Linked DNA regions of Homo sapiens. The protein of the gene in region 1 interacts with the protein of each later gene in a pairwise test. Each region holds a gene or a part of one and is shown in the gene's direction. Other genes may lie near its edges.

What was found. Proteins that work in one complex are often made in the same cells at the same time.
Region 2: the proteins of APOC2 (region 1) and NFU1 interact in a two-hybrid assay, tested with the Homo sapiens proteins (one large-scale study listed by BioGRID).
Region 3: the proteins of APOC2 (region 1) and MAIP1 interact in a two-hybrid assay, tested with the Homo sapiens proteins (one large-scale study listed by BioGRID).
Region 4: the proteins of APOC2 (region 1) and SYT16 interact in a two-hybrid assay, tested with the Homo sapiens proteins (one large-scale study listed by BioGRID).

What each region holds. Positions count from the first base shown.
Region 1 is NC_000019.10:44,944,519-44,948,850, forward strand, and holds the start of APOC2 (apolipoprotein C-II precursor), read left to right. Parts: upstream 1-1,532; 5' UTR 1,533-1,557; intron 1,558-3,947; 5' UTR 3,948-3,960; coding exon 3,961-4,015; intron 4,016-4,182; coding exon 4,183-4,332. Other genes in the region: APOC4 (apolipoprotein C-IV precursor), read left to right, coding at 231-372, 622-787. UniProt on the Homo sapiens protein: Component of chylomicrons, very low-density lipoproteins (VLDL), low-density lipoproteins (LDL), and high-density lipoproteins (HDL) in plasma. Plays an important role in lipoprotein metabolism as an activator of lipoprotein lipase.
Region 2 is NC_000002.12:69,402,783-69,406,435, reverse strand, and holds part of NFU1 (NFU1 iron-sulfur cluster scaffold homolog, mitochondrial), read left to right. Parts: intron 1-353; coding exon 354-414; intron 415-3,653. UniProt on the Homo sapiens protein: Iron-sulfur cluster scaffold protein which can assemble [4Fe-4S] clusters and deliver them to target proteins.
Region 3 is NC_000002.12:199,954,422-199,958,534, forward strand, and holds the start of MAIP1 (m-AAA protease-interacting protein 1, mitochondrial isoform 1 precursor), read left to right. Parts: upstream 1-1,160; 5' UTR 1,161-1,377; coding exon 1,378-1,827; intron 1,828-4,113. Other genes in the region: TYW5 (tRNA wybutosine-synthesizing protein 5), read right to left, coding at 972-1,049. UniProt on the Homo sapiens protein: Promotes sorting of SMDT1/EMRE in mitochondria by ensuring its maturation.
Region 4 is NC_000014.9:61,819,203-61,822,855, forward strand, and holds part of SYT16 (synaptotagmin-16), read left to right. Parts: intron 1-3,653. UniProt on the Homo sapiens protein: May be involved in the trafficking and exocytosis of secretory vesicles in non-neuronal tissues. Is Ca(2+)-independent.

The sequences.
Region 1 (4,332 bases):
ACTGACTCTGTCTCATAAAAAAAAAGAAAAAAGAAAAAAAAAAAGAGATGGCTGATGGTTAAAGAGGGGTTAGCGGTCAGGGGACACATAAGGGTAAAGGCAGGAGGCAAGAGGACTGGCAGGGGGCTGCCCCTGGGCCACCGGGAGCGACACAGGATGAGCATGGAGGGAAAGGGAGAAGGGGATTCTAGGGTCCCAGCCTACCCAAGTTGCCCTCTGGTTCCACCTAGCATGCCAGCCAGAGGCCCAGGAAGGAACCCTGAGCCCCCCACCAAAGCTAAAGATGAGTCGCTGGAGCCTGGTGAGGGGCAGGATGAAGGAGCTGCTGGAGACAGTGGTGAACAGGACCAGAGACGGGTGGCAATGGTTCTGGTGAGGGTGTGCTGGGCTGGGTGGTGGGAGGGGACTCCTGGGTCTGAGGGAGGAGGGGCTGGGGCCTGGACCCCTGAGTCTCAGGGAGGAGGAAAGGGTGGGAGTGGGGCTGTGACCCCTAGGTCTGGGAGGAGTGGAGGGTTAGAGCTGAGAGCAGGAACTCCTAGGTCACAGAGAGGAGCGGATAAATGGGGCAGAGAACACCTGGGGAGAGCTGGGGCCTCCACTGTGATGTCCTCTCTCCTGTAGGAGCCCGAGCACCTTCCGGGGCTTCATGCAGACCTACTATGACGACCACCTGAGGGACCTGGGTCCGCTCACCAAGGCCTGGTTCCTCGAATCCAAAGACAGCCTCTTGAAGAAGACCCACAGCCTGTGCCCCAGGCTTGTCTGTGGGGACAAGGACCAGGGTTAAAATGTTCATAAAAGCCAGGTGTGGTTGTGGCGGGTGCCTGTAGTCCCAGCTACTCAGGAGGCTGAGGTAGGATGATGGCTTGAGCCCAGGAGTTCGAGACCAGCCTGGGCAACACAGCGAGATCTCTTGGGGGTAAAACAAAAAGAAAAAAAAAAGTTCATACTTCTCCAATAAATAAAGTCTCACCTGTGTCCCTGTCTGGATCCTTCCCCAGTGTGGCCAGAAAAAAACCCACCCCACTGCCTCCCAGGAATCAATGAGTAGAAGAGGTGACACCTGATGGGGAAGGAAGAGTAGGGAGGTCGGGAAGGGTATCAAGGAATAACACCCTATTGTGGGCTTGCGGAGAATGGGGGACTTCAAGGCGTGTCAGTTTCAGGAGGGTGAGGGCAGGAGCGTGGGTGGAGTCAGCAGGTCCCCATGATGGCCCTCACTGAGAGCTTCGCCCTTGTCTCCTACAAGCTCTGACTCCATTCCCAGTGGGCACCCAGCACCTCCAACCCCTCCACAGCCCCCAACCCAGCCTCTGTCGGAGGCGAATTCTCAGAGTGAGGGTTCCCTGTCACTTGAGAGAAGGTTCCCTGTGACGTGACCTTGGGGGACGTCATTGCCCTTTCTGTCCCCACCCACCCCCTCCGCAGTTCTGTTGGCCAGGACTTTGGCCTAGACAAAGGATGGGGGTTGTGGCTGTGGAGCGGAAGTGGGTCTCAACCACTATAAATCCTCTCTGTGCCCGTCCGGAGCTGGTGAGGACAGCCTGCCAGAGTCTGGTAAGAAAGGGACTCAGGGTGCGGGGACAGGGGGGCGTCAGCAGGGAGAGGGCAAAGATCGATAAAGCAGGAATTTTAAGAGGCACAATATTAGAAGCCCGTGTTGGAACCATGACTGTGTGTGTGTGTGTGTGTGTGTGTGTGTGTGTGTGTGTGTGTGAGAGAGAGAGAGAGGGAGATGGAGTCTCGCTATGTAGCCCAGGCTAGACTCAAACTCCTGGGCTCAAGCAATCCTCCTGCCTCAGCCTCCCCAGTAGCTGGGACTACAGGTGCACCACCACACTCCACAAATCACAGAATTTAGAACTGTAGACTATTTGAGCTTCTGCTTAGAGTTAGGGTGGCTGAGGTGGGGAGGATCCCTTGAGCCCAGGAGTTTGAGGATGCAGTGAGCTGTGATCTTGCCACCGTGTTCCAGCCTGGGTGACAGAGAAACCCCATTTCTAAAAAAGAGAAAGAAAAAGGGATAGGTACAATGGCTCATGCCTGTAATCCCAGCACTCTGGGAGGCCGAGGCGGGTGGATCACTTGAGGTCAGGAGTTCGACACCAGCCTTACCAGCATGGTGAAACCGCATCTATACTAAAAATACAAAAATTGGCCGGGTGTGGTAGCATATGCCTGTAATCCCAGCTATTCCAGAGGCTGAGACAGGAGAATTGCTTGAACCCAGGAAGCGGAGGTTGCAGTGAGCCCAGATCGTGCCACTGTACTCTAGCCTGGGTGACAGAGCAAGACTCAGTCTTGGCGGAAAAAAAGAATGAAAAAATTTAAAAAACTAAAAAAGAACTGTAGGCTGGGCGTGGTGGCTTACACTTGTAATCCAAACGCTTTGGGAGGCCAAGGCAAACGGATCACTTGATGTCAGGAGTTGGAGACCAGCCTGGCCAACATGGTGAAACCCCGTCTCTACTAAAAATACAAAAATTAGACAGGCATGGTGGTGCATGCTTGTATTTCCAGTTACTCAGGAGGCTGAGGCAGGAGAATCGCTCGAACCCGGAAGACAGAGGTTGCGGTGAGCCAAAATTGCGCCATCGCACTCCAGCCTGGGCGAGAGAACAAGACCTTGTCTTGGAAAAAAAAAAAGAATTGTAGACCATTTGCTTGTGTTCTTTCTCCGGGGATCAGATCTCACCCTCTTTCTGCCGTACTTCCTCATCTCCTACGTGTGGATGATGATATTGTGCCCTGTGCATGTTCTTCGTCACCAAAAGTGCCTCTCTCATAGAGCAGGTGAGAACTCAGTGAGGAGATGCAGGGACATGAGGTCTGACTTAGGGCAGAGCCCTAAGGTAACACATTTGATCTACTGTAGGTCCTTAATGGTGTCTGCAGAGCACCTCCCTGCACTGACTCAGCCTTAGCAAAGGGCAGAGGCTTTGCTGTGTTCCCTGCTGGGCCCAGAACTGTTTAGGTGCTCAAGAAAGCCTTCTAGGCTGGGCTCAGTGGCTCACACCTGTACTCCCAGCACCCTGGGGAGGCCGAGATGGGAGGATCGCTTGAGCCCAGGAGTTCCAGACCAGCCTGGGCAACAAAACAAGTCTCCCATCTCTACAAAAGAATAAAAATTAGCAGCTGGGCATGGTGGCTCATGCCTGTAATTCCAGCACTTTGGGAGGCCAAGGCAGGCAAATCACTTGAGGTTAGGAGTTCAAGACCAGCCTGGCCAACATGGTGAAACCCCATCTCTACTAAAAATACAAAAATCAGGTGGGGCACAGTGGCTCAAGCCTGTAATCCTAGCACTTTGGGAGGCCAAGGTGGGCGGATCACGAGGTCAGAAGTTCGAGACCAGCCTGGCCAGCATGGTGAAACCCCATCTCTACTAAAAATACAAAATATTAGCCGGGCATGGTGGCAGGTGCTTGTGATTCCAGCTCCTTGGGAGGCTGAGGCAGAAGAATTGCTAGAACCCTGGAGGCAGAGGTTGCAGTGAGCCGAGAACACGCCACTGCACTCCAGCCTGGGTGACAGAGCGAGACTCCATCTCAAAAAATACGAAAACAAAAATCAGCCGGGTGGTGGCGGGTGCCTGTAATCCCAGCTACTGGGGAGGCTGAGGCAGGAGAATTGCTTGAACCTGGGAGGTGGGGGTTGCAGTGAGCCAAGATTGCACCACTGCACTCCAGCCTGGGCAACAGAGTGAGATTCCATCTCAAAAAAGAAAAAAATAATAATTAAAATGTTAAAATCAGGAGTAGAATCACAGAATGTTGGAAAGTGAGGCCCAAGAAGGGGGCTGTGTCCAAGTCCATGCATGGGAAACTTGACTGGGACACCGAGCTCACACAGAGCAGGATCTCAGTCCCCCCCACCAGAGTGGGGCGTGACCACAGGAACAGCCGCCTCCAGTCAGCCTGCCACATGACACCCCCTCAATGTTCCAGGTCTCTGGACACTATGGGCACACGACTCCTCCCAGCTCTGTTTCTTGTCCTCCTGGTATTGGGATTTGGTGAGTGTGGGCTTCCGGGGAGGGAAGCCTTGGGGAGGGGAATGAGCTCCAAGCATCTTCCCAGCCCAGGCCCTTCTTACCTCTGCCTCTGCCCTCTCCTCTTCTTCCTTCCTCCTTTCCCCCTGCTGCAGCCCCACGGGCTCTCCTGACACACTCTCCCCCTGCAGAGGTCCAGGGGACCCAACAGCCCCAGCAAGATGAGATGCCTAGCCCGACCTTCCTCACCCAGGTGAAGGAATCTCTCTCCAGTTACTGGGAGTCAGCAAAGACAGCCGCCCAGAACCTGTACGAGAAGACATACCTGCCCGCTGTAGATG
Region 2 (3,653 bases), on another chromosome or scaffold:
AAATCAGTTTCTTTTCTCTGATACTTTCAATCCTTGAGAACAGAGAATGTCTGCATATTTACTGGCTTAAAATTTCATACCCTAACATCATTAGCATATCAAGATGTTTTAGTGTACTCATCTTTATCACCAGATGTTGAGTTGATTGGTATTCCCTAATTTTTCTTCAGATAATCAAATGAATGTTTCTGTCATCAATTTCCCAAAATATATCTCCATACCAAGTTACATGTTCTTTCTATAGTTTTATGTTTTTAATGAACCATGTAGTTAAAATCATTCTGTTTTAATACTCGTACTTGCATGGCTATAAAATTTCTACTCTTGATGTTTTTATATGTAATTATTTCTAGGATCTGAAGAAGATGATGAAGTTGTGGCAATGATTAAGGAATTGTTAGATACTAGAATACGGTACGTGCTCCTCTCTCTACCTGAATTCAAGTGCTTTGGAGGCATTTTTCATTATAGCAATATAGTTTTAGTTGGCCATGAGATTATAGTAGATTTTCAAAATAAGTGCAAGTTAATGTAAACCACAACAGGTAGCCGTGACAATTGAATTTAAAGCCTGTATCTTCTCTACATTTACTCAAAATTTTAAAACATCCAATTTATTTAAACATATTCAATGAAGAAATGTATTCTTCACAGTCTCAATTTAGATTTGATATTGTTATAATACCAAATTTCTTAAAAAGAAAAAAAAAAGACTTAATGTTTGGCAAGGTTGTGAAGAGAGAATGAGTACCTATTTTCAGTATATTGCCCATACAGAATAAATGTTAAGTGAGTGGAGAACAGCAGGCTTCTACTTTTGCTTGTAGCAGACCAATAGTCATGCTGAGAACTCCCAGAAAAGCTGGATAAAGTACAATAAAAAGAATTTGTTTGAAAGCATTAGATAGCTGCCAGAGCAAGCAAAATGTGAGGTGCCAAGATCCTGGAGAGAAGGGAAGCTCACTGAGTTTTCCCTTCAGGCATTTGCTGTTCCTTGCTACATAGCTAGGGTAGAAGAAGCTGGGCAGAGGGCAGCTGCCAAGAATCAGAGAAACCACTGGGCTTTCAGAAAATTTGTTTAGATGGGAAGACAAAAATTAAAATTCTGGGTTACCAATGAAATCTTGATTTCAAGGACCAAGATCCTAGAGAGCAGGGAAGTTAAGAAAAGTAAGCCTATAGTTTTTGGTTTTTTTTTAAGACGGAGTCTTGCTCTGTCACCCAGGCTGGCATGCAATCTCAGCTCACTACAGCCTCGCCTCCCGGGTTCAAGCGGTTCTCCAGATTCAGCCTCCTGAGTAGCTGGGATTACAGGCACAGGCCACCACACCCAGCTAATTTTTGTATTTTTGGAAGAGACAGGGTTTCACCATGTTGGCCAGGCTGGTCTTGAACTCCTGACCTTGTGATCCGCCCACCTCAACTTCTCAAAGTGCTGGGATTACAGACATGAGCCACTGCGCCCAGCCAAGTAAGCCTATAGTTAGTAACAATGTATTGTATTCTTGAAAATTGTGGCTGGGTGTGGTGGCTCACGCTTGTAATCCCAGCTGTTTGGGAGGCGGAGGTAGGTGGATCACCTAAGATCAGGAGTTCAAGACCAGCCTGGCCAACATGTTGAAACCCCATCTCTACTAAGAATACAAAAATTAGCCAGGCGTGGTGGTGGGCATCTGTAATCCCAGCTACTAGGGAGACCGAGGTAGGAGAATCACTTGAACCCTGGAGGCGGAGGTTGCAGTCAGCCAAGATTATGCCATTGCACTCCAGCCTGGGCGACGAGCAAAACTCTTTCTCAAAAAAAAAAAAAAAAAAAAAAATTTGCTAAGATAGTAGTTATTAAGTGTTCTTGACACAAAAAATAAGTATGCGAGGTAATGTATATGTTAGTATATGTTAATTAGCTTGATTTAGCCATTCCATGGTGTATACAGATATTTTTTTTTTGAGACAGAGTCTTGCTCTGTCACCCAGGCTGGAGTGCTGCACGATATCAGCTCACTGCAACCTCTGCCTCCCAGGTTCAAGTGATTCTCCTGCCTCAGCCTCCTGAGTAGCTGGGATTACAGGCATGTACCACCACACCCAGCTAATTTTTGTAGTTTTAGTAGAGACAGGGTTTCACCGTGTTGGCCAGGTTGGTCACGACCTCCTGACCTCAGGTGATCTACCCTCCTCGGCCTCCCAAAGTGCCGGGATTACAGGCGTGGGTCACCGCTCCCGGCCTACATATTTCAAAACATCATGTTGTACATGGAAATATCTATAATTTTTGTGAATTAAGAATAATTAATTGGAGGCCGGGTGCGGTGCCTCACGCCTGTAATCCCAGCACTTTGGGAGGCCGAGGTGGGTGGATCATGAGGTCAGGAGATTGAGACCATCCTGGCTAACACAGTGAAACCCTGTCTCTATTAAAAATACAAAAAATTAGCCGGGCATGGTGGCGGGGGCCTGTAGTCCCAGCTACTCGGGAGGCTGAGGCAGGAGAATGGCGTGAACCTGGGAGGCGGAGCTTGCAGTGACCCAAGATTGCACCACTGCACTCCAGCCTGGGCGACAGAGTGAGACTCTATCTCAAAAAAAAAAAAAGTAACCCTGGAACTAAAATTATAATAACTGAACTTAAGAACTCATTAGATTGGACATAGTTGAAGAGAAGATTAGTATACTGGAATTTAAGTCAGTAGAAAATATTCAGCCTGAAGCACAGGGAGAGAAGAGAATAGAAGATATGGGAAAGAAGCATGAGATGGTGGGCACGGTGCTCACACCTATAATTCCAGCACTTTGGGAGGCTGAGGTAGGAGGATTGCTTGAGCTCAGAAGTTAGAGACCACCCTGGCAACATAGTGAGACCTTGTCTCTACAAAAAATTAAAAAATTAGCTGGGTGTGGTGGTGTGCACCTGTAGTCTCAGCTGTTCCTGAGGCGGGAAGATTGCTTGAGCCCGGGAGATTGAGGCTGCAGTGGGCTGTGATCACACCATTGCACTCTGGTCAAGGAGATAGAACAAGACCCTGTCTCACCAGAAAAAAAAAAATGAATCAAACCTCCGGAGGGGAGAAATAGAATAAAAAATAATTCATCAATCTGAAACAATGCAAAATAGGAAACAGTAAATGGTAATATAAACTCAAAAGTGTTGGCATTTAAATGACAGTAGTTTGATGAACAAAAATAAGATTGTCAAATTGGATGTGAAAAAACAAAAAAACAAAATCAACTATAGACTGCTTAGAAGAGATATAGGGGCCAGGCATGGCGGCTAATGCCTGTAATCCTAGCATTTTGGGAGGCCAAGGTGGCAGATTGCTTGAGCCCAGGAGTTTGAGACCAGCCTGGGCAACATAGTGAGACCCCGTCTCTACAATGAAAGAAAGAGAGAAAGAGAAAGAAAGAGAGAGGGAGGGAGGAAGGAAGTGAAGGAAGGAAGGAGGGAGGGAGGGGAAAAGAAAAGAGAAGAGAAAAGGAAAGAAATAGAATATTTGTATGACCTTCGGGTAGGCAATTTTTTTTTTTTTCCCCAACGGGACACAAGAAATCAGATAAAGACCGGGCGCGGTGGCTTACACCTGTAATCCCAGCACTTTGAGAGGCCGAGGTGAATGGATCATCTGAGGTTGGGAGTTCGAGACCACCCTGACCAACAT
Region 3 (4,113 bases), on another chromosome or scaffold:
CAGAATTGTAGTTTTGTTTGTTTGTTTGAGACCGAGTTTAGCTCTTGTTGCCCAGGCTGGAGTGCAGTGGCGCGATCTCGGCTCACTGCAACCTCCGCCTCCCGGGTTCAAGCGATTCTCCTGCCTCAGCCTCCCGAGTAGCTGGGATTACAGGTATGGGCCACCACCATGCCCGGCTAATTTTGTATTTTTAGTAGAGATGGGATTTCTACTGGCTGGTCTTGAACTCCTGACCTCCGGTGATCCGTCCGCCTCGGCCTCGCAAAGTGCTGGGATTACAGGCGTGAGCCACCGCGCCCGGCCCCAGAACTGTAATTCTATGACCACCCTTATAAATGTAAATATCAGGTAAGAAAATTGCTGGGTATTTTTCCTACCATAAACTGACTTACTGTAATCCTGTGGATTTTTCCTTTTAATACCTTGTTTTTCTTAGGTCTGGACTCCCTTGAAAAGCACTGCAAGTAAAAGCACTTTTTGTTTCCCTAATATTTCTCTATGAGTTTTCTTTTAAAGACCTAAGGTTCTAACTACAGGTATAAAAGACTCCAATGTCGGAACTAGAACCTAAGTAAGTTAGAATTCAAGACGAGTAGGAGTTTTCCGGGGGAATCCCATTGCTTTCCTTTTTGGCTCAGTGGAGTGAAAAGTTGTGCCTTCAAATCCATTAATTCGGAGCAGACTGACAGATGCGGAGTAAAGAGTTTAGGCAAAATACCTCTCGCACTCAGCTCTCCGCCATCATCTTGCTCCCCAGAAACATGGGACTTTCTCCGGAAATTTCAATAGAGGAGCCAGTCGGCGTCCCCCGTGCACCTTTCCCTTGGTCTAAGGGCCAACCAGTGATCTGCTGCCGTCCTGCGCCTCTTTCCCACACCCTGGGTCTCTAAAAACCAGTTCCCAGCTGTCCGAAAGGTAAAGACGTGTCTCTCGCTGGTTTCTCGAGGTTCTGCCCCGCGCGAGGGCCTCACCTGTGGGTAGAGGTGCTGCATGAACTGCTCCCGAGAAACGCCCTCCAGCCGGGGTACCGGGAGGTGCTGCCCGGCCATGGTTGCTCACGCCTGCCCTCTTCCAGGTCTTCGGAACTTCGGCTCTAAAGCGTTCCTCAGCGCCATCCGCCCGGAAACACGAGCGACAGAGAAAAGGTCCGCGAGGCCGGCAGACTCCAGAGTGGCTGGGTCCGAGCGCGGGGCGGGTTGCCGAAGGGCCTCGGCCTGGGCTGCGTGCTGGAGAGCGGGGACGGGGCCGACTCACCAGAGGCTGCAGCAACAGGTCCACTTTGCTCTCCAGTCTCTTTCTCCGACACCGCTGAGGCGGTTTCCCACCGACTTCCTTTCCATACAGCACCGGCAGGCACCGGTGTGAAGGGTCATAAAAATGGCGCTGGCCGCTCGTTTGCTACCCCAGTTCCTGCACTCTCGGTCGCTGCCCTGCGGGGCCGTCCGACTCCGGACTCCTGCTGTGGCCGAGGTGAGGCTGCCGTCGGCCACACTTTGCTACTTCTGCCGCTGTCGCCTCGGCTTGGGAGCGGCGTTATTTCCACGAAGCGCTAGGGCCTTGGCAGCCTCGGCGCTACCTGCCCAGGGCTCCCGGTGGCCAGTGCTCAGCAGCCCGGGACTCCCCGCAGCCTTCGCTTCTTTCCCTGCCTGCCCTCAGCGCAGCTACAGCACGGAGGAGAAGCCCCAGCAGCACCAGAAAACCAAGATGATCGTCCTGGGATTCTCCAACCCCATCAACTGGGTTAGGACTCGAATTAAGGCCTTCCTTATCTGGGCCTATTTCGACAAAGAGTTCAGCATCACAGAGTTCTCCGAGGGAGCGAAGCAGGTTTGTTTATTTCCCTGATTGACCTATCCGTCTCTAATGAGTTCAACTATTGCTCGCAGAAGTGCTTAGCAGTGAGTTTTCTTCACTGGGATACAAGTGATCAAACGTGATTAGTGGCCCAGACATAGAGCCTTCCAGCCATTGCTTGACTTAAAGTAAGCTTCTGGGCCGGGAATGGTGGTACACGCCTGTAGTCTCAGCTACTTGGGAGGCTGAAGGGGAGGATCGCTTGAACCCAGGAGTTGGACGTTGTAGTGAGCTGTGATCGTGCCATTGCACTCCAGCCTGGGATACAGAGCCAGGCCCTGTCTCAGAAAGAAAAAGCTATATGGCTCATCTTGTCTGAACATAATTTTCAAATTTACAAAGTGGGCAAGACAATGCCTGGCACATAGTAGGCACTCCATGAATGTTTGCTGAATACATTAATAAATGGGTAAGATTGAAGAATAATTGAGATAACATTTCCAAAGTGCTGTAATGTCACCTTGGGTAGAAGAGCAGAACTTCCTGCCAGCTATTAGACAGAGCCGACCAATACACCACCCCATACTCCGTAAAGATTAAACTGGAGATGAGCAATTTTACCCTTTCAAAGGATTTGCTGAGACTGCCTGGTGGCTAAGTGCACAGCACCCTGCACACAGAAAATATTTAGCCTTTAGAGATTCTTATCCCTGACTTTGTTAGTTACGTACCTGTTTCTGAATGGCTGATTATACCTTGCCTTACCCTTGTGACATATGGTCACTTGGGTCCTGAGATTATTTGTAGATTTTGTGGGTACATGCTTTTTTTTTTTTTTTTTGGACTCCTTTACAGATTGTATCGTTCCCAAACATTGCAGAACTGCTGATAACAATAGAAGTCGGCCAGGCATGGCGGCTCACGCCTGTAATCCCAGTACTTTGGGAGGCCGAGGCAGGTGGATCACAAGGTCAGGAGTTCGAGACCAGCCTGGCCAATATGGTGAAACAGTGTCTCTTCTAAAAATACAAAAATTAGGCGTGGCGAGCCCCTGTAGTCCCACCTACTCTGGAGGCTGAGGCAGGAGAATTGCATGAACCCGGGAGGTGGAGGTTGCAGTGAACCAAGATTGCGCCACTGCACTCCAGCCTGGGTGACAGAGCGAGACTCCGTCTCAAAAAACAAAAACAAACAAAAAAACCACAATAGAAGTCAGAAAGTTTATTTCCCGCTTCATACCTCCATATGCCTTAAAACCATGCTATTGGTGTAATCATTTTACAGTATTGGTTGTATACTGGTATTGATATTTTACTCCAAATTTATTTCAGATTCTTTCCATAATCATGGCCATTTGTATTTATAAGACCAATCAGTTGTAAATCAAATGTTTTCAACTTTGTTTAATAAGTGTCAGTATTAACTCCTGCTGCCTGCTTCTCTGAGTCAACTCTTGACTACTATATATATTTATATAAAAAAAGTCAAAGAACAAACTTGATTAAGATGCTTAACTCAGCATTATAATTGATAAACCTCTGCTCTTGTCAGTTCTCAAAGTCTTTTGTCCATGCAGTGGTAAGTTGTATTGATCCTACTGTTCTGTACAATGCCCACTGATGATATATGAGCTTGTCCACCTCATAACACATATGATGGTACCAGTTCATTTATGTTTCAGTAAGGAATGGAAATCATCTCCCCACCATGGGCAGGCATCAGGCCTCAGTACTTGTTTCCTCTGAACACACAGAGGAGCATGCAGCATTTTTGGGGTCACTCCAGTCCTAGTGGTCCTCCAGCTGTTAGCTATTTTCACCTCCTTCCTTGCTATTAAGCAGTATTTCCACCCCATTCATCAGCCAGCCTGTAAGCATTGTTGCTTATATAAAGCAAACAACCTGAATTTCAGTATCAAGGTGTCGGAGGGGTTGTTTTCTCCTGAGGCCTCTCTCAGCTTACAGATGGCCGTCTTCTTGCTGTGTCCTTGCATGGTCCTCCCTGTGCATGCGTGCTCCTGGTGGCTCTTACTCCACATTTGCTCCTCTTATAAGGATGCCAGTCAGATTGGATTTTGGCCCACCCTGATGGTCTCATTTAACTTAATCATCTCTTTAAGGCTTTATCTCCAAATATAGTCACATTTCAAGGTTCTGGGGGTTAGAGCTTCAGCATAAATTTTCGGGGAAGGAGAGCACAATTCATCCTATAACAGTTAGGCAGTATTCTCTGACATGCCATATCTGACATGCCTGTGCATCCTCTGGCAGCCTAGATTTCAGCTTAGATGTTTCTTCCTTTAGGAAGCCCTCTCTGATC
Region 4 (3,653 bases), on another chromosome or scaffold:
ATTTGGATGACATTTGTCCTTTTAGATCACTAGGGTATTATTTAGTCATTAACTATTATTTAGCATTATGAATGATAAGATGGCTATTATGCCATTTAACAATTGTCTGTATATTAAGATGATAATCAAACTCACTGACAGTGCTTTCTAGTAGATTGGAGAGGTATCTGAAGTGCATATTACAAAAAAAATTTTATGCACAGCTGTCATCCTTCCATTAAGGATTATACATATCTGATTTTAGGTAGTTTACATTTATGGATGGATATTACCCCTTTAGAATAAAATTTTCTTATTGTGAGAATATAATATTCTTCTGGCGTCTAATTTTAGGAATATAATAAGTCACATTCTATAATTTTACTCACAATGGAGCAAAGATTAAGAGACATAAAATGATTTTACCCACCCTGCATGAAAATGCCCCTGGTTTATATACTTAATTCAAAAGAGCACCATACAGATAACCTACCAATTACAAGGAGGTTTTCAATTGGCTTAGCTCAATAGAAATTGCAAAAGATTGAAGAACTGAGTGTGGTATGGTGGAAGAGAGCACAGGCCTGGTTCCAGAGGTGCCTGAGTCGTGAACTCTGGTCCTGCCACTCAAAGGCTGGGTAAGAGGTAAATTGTTTAACTTCCCGGAGGCTTTGTCTTATTCCACTCTGAGGAATTACAAGGAGTAAAAGAGATGGAACAGAGTTGCTGGCACAACATATGCATTAATAAATGTCTGTCCCTTTACCTGCTACAAGATCCTTCCAATGGCGTGTACCTCCCCATAGGGTGTACCTCATATTATGAGAACAATCTGACTCAGAAACAGGGTGCCTAGTCATTGATTCCATTTTTTGTGTGTGAGGAATATAAAATTAAGAACAAATGATCTGTGTACAAATGTAAGACTAGGGAAGAGAATCTAGGACAAGCACCCAAAGGTGCAGAACTCAGATTTTAAATAGAAGTAATAATCATGTTTTCTTCCCCAATGTTTATTGTTTTGTGCAAGTGTACTTGTACCATGAGCATGTGGATTTGTGAAATGTGCACACACACAACTTGTAGAAACCTTGGGAGAATTCACTGATGGGCTGTGAAAAGGGCTACAACAGCTACCTCTTTGATTTAAGAGGCAAGAGGGTTTTGAGCACTTCTCCGCTGATGTGCATTTGGCGATCTCTCTGGGCTTCGTGGCCTACCCCTCTCAGGAATGACTGATGGATGGCTATAGCACTGGGCGGATATGCTTCAGGGCACCTCTTCAGAGTTTTTTTTTTTTTTTTTTTTTTTTTTTTTTGAGACGTAGTCTCGCTCTGTCGCCCAGGTTGGAGTGCAGTGGCACGATCTCGGCTCACTGCAACCTCCGCCTCCTGGGTTCAAGCGATTCTCCTGCCTCAGCCTCCTGAGTAGCTGGGATTACAAGTGCCTGCCACCATGCCCAGCTAACTTTTGTATTTTTAGAAGAGACAGGGTTTCAGCCTGTTGGCCAGGCTGGTCATGAACTCCTGACCCCAAGTGATCAGCCCGCCTCAGTTTTCAGAGTTGAATGCCCTCCTGGCTCTGAAGTTTTATAAAAGCCCCTTCAATGATGTTGATAAGCCTGAAAAATTTCTGGCTGTTCCATTATTGAGCTTTAAAAAAGCTTAATATGCTAGTAATACTCATACATAAATGACCTTGTCTCCACTGGTGCTGACCTTAGCCATCCAGCCCTTCCTTCTGGGAGTAGCCTTTCTCTGTCTCAGACATCTGCTCTGGGATCCTCCCACTGCCCATGTTGACATTCCCTGTCTCTCTTGCTTCCCAGCTCTTGCTCTAACTCCCCATACCTGCCAATATGCTTTTCCCTTTGGTTTCACTATTCTTGGTATTTTGGCTGAGACACACCAGCTCTATTAGTGTCAGGTTTGCAGAGCCCTCAGCCGCTGGGCTGCCTTCAACAGCCCTCCCCTTCTTCTCCACAAGAAAAAGGTAGAGGATGACCCCTCTCCCTTAACCCCTATCATCCTATTTCTTAGACTTTTTAGAAGTGCATTACAATATCTTTCCTAACTAGCCCAAATCAATTGTTAGATTTTAGTGGTGATAATTAGAATCACAGTCATATTTTCTACAGTGTTTTTTAAATACTCCCCTATATTTGTTATCTATTGCTGCATAACAAATTACCACAAAGCTAGTGGCTTAAAAAAACACTTATCTGTCATTCCACAGCTCTGTAGGTCAGGAGTTTGCTGGCTGCAATCAAGGTGTCAGCTATGGCTGGGCTTTCATCTGAAGGCTTGAGTGGGGCAGATCCACTACTGAGCTCATGGGCATTGACAGGATTCAGACTCTTGCAGGCTGATGGACTGAGGGCCTCAATTTCTTACTGGCTTTAGCTAGAGGCTACCCTCAATTTCCTTCTATGTGAACCTCCCAGTATGGCCTCTTGCTTCATCAAAGCCAGCAAGGGAGAAAGTCTGCTAGTAATAGAATCATGCAAGTGACATTCCATCACCTTTGCTGTATTCTCTTGGCTAGTAGCAAGTCATAGGTTCCTTCTTAACTCAAAAGGAAGGGATTAAACAAGGATGTGAGTACTAGGAGATGAGGATAATCATAAACCATCTTAGAGTCTGTCTGCTATACTCCCCATGAAACTTTTATATCTACTTCTTCAATTAGATTTTTATTTGGAGTATTACATTTCCTCTTTAAGACTTTAGATATCATTGGGATGGTGTACTAGTCAGGGTTCTCCAGAGGGACAGAGCCAATAGGATATATCTATAAAAATGGATTTATTAGGGGAGAATTGGCTAACACGATCACAAAGGTAAAGTCCCAGCATAGGTCATGAGCAAGCTGCAGAACCAGAGAAGCCAGTGGCATGGCTGTCAGAGAGCCTGGTAGCATGGCTCAGTCCAATTCCGAAAGCCTCAAAACTGGGGAAGCCAACAGTACAGCTCCCAGTCTGAGGTCAAAAGACTGAGAGCCTCTAGGAGCTTGCTGGTACAAGTCCAACAATCCAAAAGCTGAAGAACCTGGAGTCTCACGTCCAAGGGCAGGAGGAGAAAGTCCTGCTCTGGCAGGGAGAGACAGAGCAGAGGGTGGATCCCCCATCTTTTCCCACACTCCTTCTTTGTCCTCGTGGGGCCACCAGCCAACTGGATGGTGCCTATCCATATTGAGGGTTGGTCTGCTTCTCTTAGGCCACTGACTCCTGCATCATTCTTCTCTGGAAACACCCTCACAGACACATCCAGAAACACTGCTCACCAGCCATCTAGGCATCCTTCAATCCAGTCAAGTTGACACCTACTGTTAACCATTGCAGGTGGTAAAGCCTGAAATAACTGCCTCCGTCAGAGAAGAAATTGTTCTCTTCTTTCCAACCTGAGAGCTGTTGCACTGTAGAAACAATGGCGCTGGAAGGGTAATTTTTGGTGTTTGAGCTGCTATTGGGGAAGTCCATCTGAATAAGAGGCTGCTGTGGTGAGCTCTGAAGAAGCAGAAGGCAGTATGCTTTGTGAATTTTATGCAAATGTTACAGATTTATAAAAATGAAAACACTCAAATTGTCTCATTTTTGGAAAAATTAAAAAACACAGGAAGTCAGGATGATGCTCTGAAACTCAGGTTGAAAGTGGGTAAAGGGCACAGAGTGAGAC